Linked DNA regions of Homo sapiens: region 1 is linked to region 2. The links come from fine-mapping of genetic effects on gene expression. A gene starts in region 2. The other region holds a variant in brackets. All regions are shown on one strand. Distances are from middle to middle. Region 1 overlaps CDC42EP4 (CDC42 effector protein 4). Region 2 holds the start of CDC42EP4 (CDC42 effector protein 4).

Evidence for each region. PIP is the estimated chance that this variant, and not a neighbour inherited with it, causes the effect.
Region 1: its variant is fine-mapped to the expression of CDC42EP4 in whole blood (TOPMed, PIP above 0.99).

What each region holds. Positions count from the first base shown.
Region 1 is chr17:73,288,973-73,291,868 of GRCh38, reverse strand. All of the region lies in intron 1 of CDC42EP4 (CDC42 effector protein 4), which reads left to right. Among named protein-coding and RNA genes, the nearest start is that of CDC42EP4, 22 kb to the left of the region's middle. RefSeq lists enhancers at 1-101, 85-379, 354-433, 724-943. The variant T/C (reference allele first, on the strand shown) is at 1,238.
Region 2 is chr17:73,310,786-73,313,681 of GRCh38, reverse strand. CDC42EP4 (CDC42 effector protein 4) reads left to right here and starts at 1,681. Exons shown (of 2, transcript NM_012121.5): 1 at 1,681-1,789. RefSeq lists silencers at 1,303-1,462, 1,533-1,792, 2,243-2,792, 2,803-2,896.

The DNA.
Region 1 (2,896 bases), 22 kb after region 2:
TTCTGGGGAGGGCTCCTCGTTCCCACCTTAAAGGAAGGTTCCGTGGTCAGTGGGCTGAGGGTAGAGGAATCTGTTCCTCCGGAGGCTCAGGAGAGCTAGGGAGGGCTGTGAGCTGTGATCCATTTTCCCTCTCCCTGCCAAGAAAGTGGGATGTGGTTTCTGGGGTGGGGTGGGGGTGTCCCGCCCAAGGCAGGCTATGGGGAGTGCCTGCCCCACGTTGGGCAGCCTATTTTAGCCACTTCCCCAGAGCTGAGTCACCATGCTTCTGAAAGCCCCGCCCAAAGCCACAATGCCCTGTGGCCTCCCAAACCATAGCTGCCCCCAGGACCTGCCCAGGCCTCTGGCGAGACTCCCACCACCTACTTTCTCTTAAACTCTATGATCCAGCTCGTCACCTCCAAACTGTTCTCTGTTAGAAGCTCAGAGTGACTCAAGGTCACTCAAGGCTGGTGAAACCAAGCTGTTGCTGACCCTCAATCCTGCTGGGTGGCCTGTCTAGTCTGAGCTCCAGACACCCAGGCCTCATCCCCAGTGTGGACTGCCAGGTACTGCAGCCCCCTCCTCGCTGGGGCAGTGGGACAGATGCGTGACTCCCTCTAGGCCCCAACTCTCTCAGGACCCTTCCTTGCTGGTTATTGAAGATGGCTTTCTACAAGCCACAAAGTCTCGTTCCCAACCCCCCAGGAAGCGAGACCGTGGCAGCAGGCAGCACTGGGTAGACCTGTCCCTGTCTTTCTGGGGTGTGGGGTTGAACAAGATCCTGGGGACCCCAGGGCTAGCCCAGGATGGCCGTGATTTCAGCTGAGTTTCCCTGCTGTCCCCTCTGACCTACCTCAATAGTTCTACCCGCAAGGATGTGCTGGGTGGTGTGGCTAATGGGATGCGGGGAGCTGTCCTCCCCTGTAGCCATCATGGCCAGGATATTTGGTCCCTTTGGGCAGCCACAGTGACCTGCAGCTTCTCTGGTGAGTCCTGGGGAGCCGGGTCTGTGGTTTCCCTTTCTTTCCTCTCTAATGAGCGTATAAGATCGGGAAACCACAGGACCTGACATCACTCACAGGGTCTGGGGGTTCCTGCCTTGGCGTTGAAACCCTTAACGCAGCTCTGGGGGCTCGTGCCGCCATGTTCTCACCCGGTTCTGACCATCCACACCCGCCTCCCTGCTTCTCTGTCTTTGTTGTTTACCTGGTGAGCATACCTGCTCTATCTTCACCTGTGTGTTCTCACTCAAGGCTGC[T/C]GTTTCTCAACTGGGGCAGTTTTGCCTCCTGGGGGACATTGGGCAATATCTTGAGACAGTTTTGCTTGTTGTGACTGGGGGGTGGATGCTACTGGCATCTAATGGGTAGAGACCAGGGATGCTGCTGAATATCCTACAGTGCACAGGGCAGGTCCACCTCCCGATGAGAAATTATCTGGCCCAAATAGCAACAGTGTGGAACCTGCTCTAGGATTACACAAGAACCTTCTTGAAGCAGCTGTTGGGTACCCCCTTCTCTGTACCCTGCCGGCCAGCAGTGGGGAGGAGCACTCAGTGGTCGGTGGTCACTGACCAGCAATGCCGCCGCCAGAGCTGGAGAAGGGCCTGGAGTGGAGCGGAGAGAGCTCTGGACTCAAAGACCCAGTTTCTAGCCCAGCTCTGTTGCTTTGGGCTAAAAACCTGGATAAATCACTTTCCTTCAATAAACTTGTTTCCTCATCCATAAAGTGAAAGTGCTGCACTGAATATCCCCTCCAGTTCTTTGAGATTCCTGGATGCTGTGCGTAGAGCCAGGAGTCGGGGTGCAGGCAGGTGGAAGATGGGGTCCCCTCCGTTCCTGACTGGTGTCCCTGCTGGTGGCAGTAGAAGCCTGAAGGATTTGCCAGGAACGAGAGTTCGTTTGAAGCTTGGCCTTTTTCCCTTCTATGCCCAACGTGACTGAGGCAGAGTCTACCTTCTCTTTTTCTTTTTCTTTTCTTCTGCTGCTTCTTTTTCTCTTTCTTTCCTTCCTTGCTTTTCTTTTCCTTTCTTCCTTTCTTCTCTTCCTTTCCTTTCCTTCTTTCCTTTCTTTTTCTTTCTCTCTTTCTTTTTTTCTTTCCTTATTTCCTTTCCTTCCTTCCTTTCCTTCCCCTCCCTTCCTCCCTCCCTTCCTCCCTCCCTCCCTTCCTCCCTTCCTGTTTTCTTCAGAGTTTTGCCTAGGAGCCCATGGCTGGCCAAGAGGGTCATATATGATATTCAGGAGTCAGCAAACTACAGTCCATGGGCCAAACCCAGCCTGCGTTTGCTTTTGTAAATAAAGATGTGGCTTTTTGGTGGTTTTTTTTCTTTTACTGGTTTATTACAAAAGATACGACTCAGGAACAGCCAAACGGAAGAGCTGCATGAGGATGCGTGGGGTCAAGTGTTGGGGTGGGGGGCAGGGCACGCACCACCTTCCTGGCACCTCGATCTGCTCACCAACCCAGAAGTTGTCTGTAAATAAAATGTTATTGGAACATAGCCATGCCTACTTGTTTACATGTTGCTATGGCTCCTTTCTTTCTTTTTTTGATTTTGTGTAGAGATGGGGTCTCACCGTGTTGCCCAGGCTGGTCTGGAACTCCTGGGCTCAACTGATCCTCCTGCCGTAGCCTCCCAGAGTGCTGGGATTACAGTTGTGACCCACTGTGCCCGGCCAACGGCTAGTTTTATACTAAGAAGACAGTTGAGTAGCTGTGACAAAAACCCTATCAGCCACAAGGCCGAGAATATTTACTCTCTGGCCCTTTGCAAAAAGTGTTTGCTGACCTTTGGTCTAGCGGTTCAATGTCTAATTGTTTAGAGGTTGAGGTGGGGCAGGAGGGTGGGGCCCAGAGATAATCCAAGTTAGAGTTAGGGGAAGGTCACTTTCCTAAGGGTAGGGAGGAGAGAGAGCTGACC
Region 2 (2,896 bases):
TAGACTTACAGACACTAAATCAGAGCCTCACACGCTTGTGACCTCAATGCCTTTCCTCCCTCTCTCCCTCTTCTTTTCCTTTCCTGCTTGCTTTTTCTCTTTTAAATACAGAAGTTCCCAAAACCTTTTTGGAAAAAAGGTGATTTTTCCCCGGTGGATCCTCAACCTTGGCTAACTAAACCTCTATTTGATTGAGATCTGCCTTAGTCACTTTTTGGTTTACATCCATGATAACCCCGCCAGGGTTTGAATCCACAGTGTCTGCCTCCCAAGTGGCTCCAAACCCTACCTTTCCCTCCAGATGTCCAGTTCAGAATTTGATTTTACTTATTATTCATTTATTTTTTTTTTTGAGATGGAGTCTACCTCTGTCACCCAGGCTAGAGTGCAATAGCGCGATCTCGGCTCACTGCAACCTCCACCTCCCAGGTTCAAGCGATTGTCCCGCCTCAGCCTCCTGGGTAGCTGGGATTACAGGCGCCCACCACCATGCCCGACTAATTTTTGTATTTTTGGTAGAGATGGGGTTTCGCCATGTTGGCCAGGCTGGTCTCAAACTTCTGACCTCAAGTGACCCCCCACCTGCCTTGGCCTCCCAAAATGCTAGGATTACAGGCATGAGCCACTGCGCCCAGCCCAGAACTTAATTTTCACAGCAGGATGGAGTGGCCAAACCATTAGCTCTCAAGAGCTGGTTGCTGTCGCACTGCAGAGGGAAACGGAAATGTGCTGTCCCCAGAAAGCAGAATGTTCCTGAGGGCTTAGGGACCTCGCAGCCATGGGGAAAGTCTGGGGCCTTCACCCTCACTTCCTTTAAAAACCGAGGGTGGGGTTCAGCTAGAGGCAAGGGAACTTTTCACTTTGCGCCTTGTCCACTTTAGTTGACTACTTCGCAGCTGGCATTCTACCTTGATAATGATCATTTCAACTGAAACTATTCCTCTAAAAAGAATAGAGTCCAAGGCCTGGGACTTGGATTCAGGCTCTGGGACTCAGGAGTTGATCCTCCTTGACGTTCACCTGGTGCAAATTTAGCCTCAGCTGATACTTAGGAGGCAAAGGCACAGACGGGGATGCGGGGAGCTCAAGGGCTGTCACCCTGTAGAAACATTTCTGACGCCCAGTCCAAGCCTGGCCTCGGGGCTGGCCGGCTCCTCCCCGCTCCCTCGTTTACAGCGAGAGTCTGGGATGGCACCCACGAAGCTGGTGGCGCCAGCCCTCCTGCCCCATCTCCCGACAGTACTGCAGCCAGGTGGTTAGCAGGTCCGGGAGGGAGCAGGAACGAGGAACGCCACCCGGGCTGGAGTTCTTGGTTTCTTGCCCCGGCTCGAATGGGGAAGAGCCTCAAAAGAGCCTCGCGCCAGGCCCCCGGAGGGAGACGCGCCCCTGGCCCTGGGGGCCCCAGTGGGGGTTCGCGGCCGGAGCGCAGGCTGGGGCGGGAGTGTCTCCCGGAAGCCGGGCGGGCCCAGGCTGCCCCATACGGAGTTGGGAAAGTCTCAGGCTTTCAGTTTGAACCGAGGAGGCCGAGCAGTCGGGCAGAGGTTCCCGACGGCCATTGGCTGCTGCGGCGCCGTGACATCAGCGCAGAGGGGTGCGCGGGGAGGGTTGCGCGGGGCGGGCGCGGGCGGAGCCTGGAAGGGGAGTGTCCTGGAGGCTCCCAGCCCTGAAAGCCCGAGAGCCAGAGGGAAACAAACGCCGGCGCTGACAGGGGCCGCCAGCCCCTCCGCCGCGCGGAGCCCACGAAGGGGACAGCGCAGCCGGCCCAGAGCTCGGGTCTCCGGGGACCGAGGTAGGCGACGGGCAACCGCCTCTGTCTGTGGTAGCCGCCTTCGCGCTGGGTGCCCTGGGTGGGCTTGGGGGTCTCGAGTCCCCCTGTGGGGCAGAGAGGATCGAAGCTGGGGATGCGAGGCCGCGGCGCGGGGAGAAGGGCGCGGAGCCCCCACTTCTCGGCGCTCGCGCTTTTCACCGCGCCCACCGCGGTGCCTGGGACCCTAAGCTGCGCACCTAGTGTCCTGGCAGAGCGGGATGTGTGGAGGAGGAGGTGGCAGGGAGCCGGGCGCAGCGTTGCCGGGACTCCATTTCCTCTCTCCACGCTGGAACTCCCGGCCCTGGCCAAGGGTGCCGCTGAGGGGGTTGGGGGCCGGTTTTAAAGGGCCTCCCCCTTCCCAGGAATGGGGTGTGTGTCGGTGTGGGCAGGAGCGCAGCAATCGGCGGCGCGCGGCCCGCGATCTCCGCGAGGGGGGCGTGTGTGCGCCCGGAGTTCTCCATGAATAAGAACCGAATTCTCCGCCTGTACGGGCAGAGGCGTGTACACATCTCGCTCTCGTACACACACTGCAGCACACGCCACCCAATGTCACCCGGCCGGGAAGCCAGAGGGAAGGAGCTGTCTGGAAGGGAATGGCCGAAGGAACAAATGGTCCTCCTTTCCCCTACTCCCGCCCCGCGAACCCTTCCCTCCCCCGCCAGGCTCCCGCCCCGCCCGCTCCCTCGGAAGCCCGGGAGGCCGAGGCGCCTCCTGGCGGGGTGCGGGGGGAGGGCAGTCGAGCCACCCGCCCCCTTGGAGCCGGGGAGACGGCCGCTCCTGGGCTAGTGCGCCCCGAGCTCAGCGCGCTCAGCGGGATCGCAGGCGGGAGCGGTCGGTTAATGATTTAATCGCCCGCTTGGGGCGGGTGCGCGCGGATCGGCCGTCCCTGGCCCCGCCCCCTCTCCGGAGCGCCCCCAGCCGGGGTTACAAAACTGCCCCCTGCCCCCGGCGCGTCCCCCAGGAGCCATCCTGCCCGCGGGGATCCCGTCAGCCGGTGAGTGCCCCGGCCGGGAGGGCTGGAGAGCTGGGCGGGAGCCGGGGCTGAGGCTGAGCCAGCTTCCTGGGAGAGGACTGAAGTGCGTGTGTGTG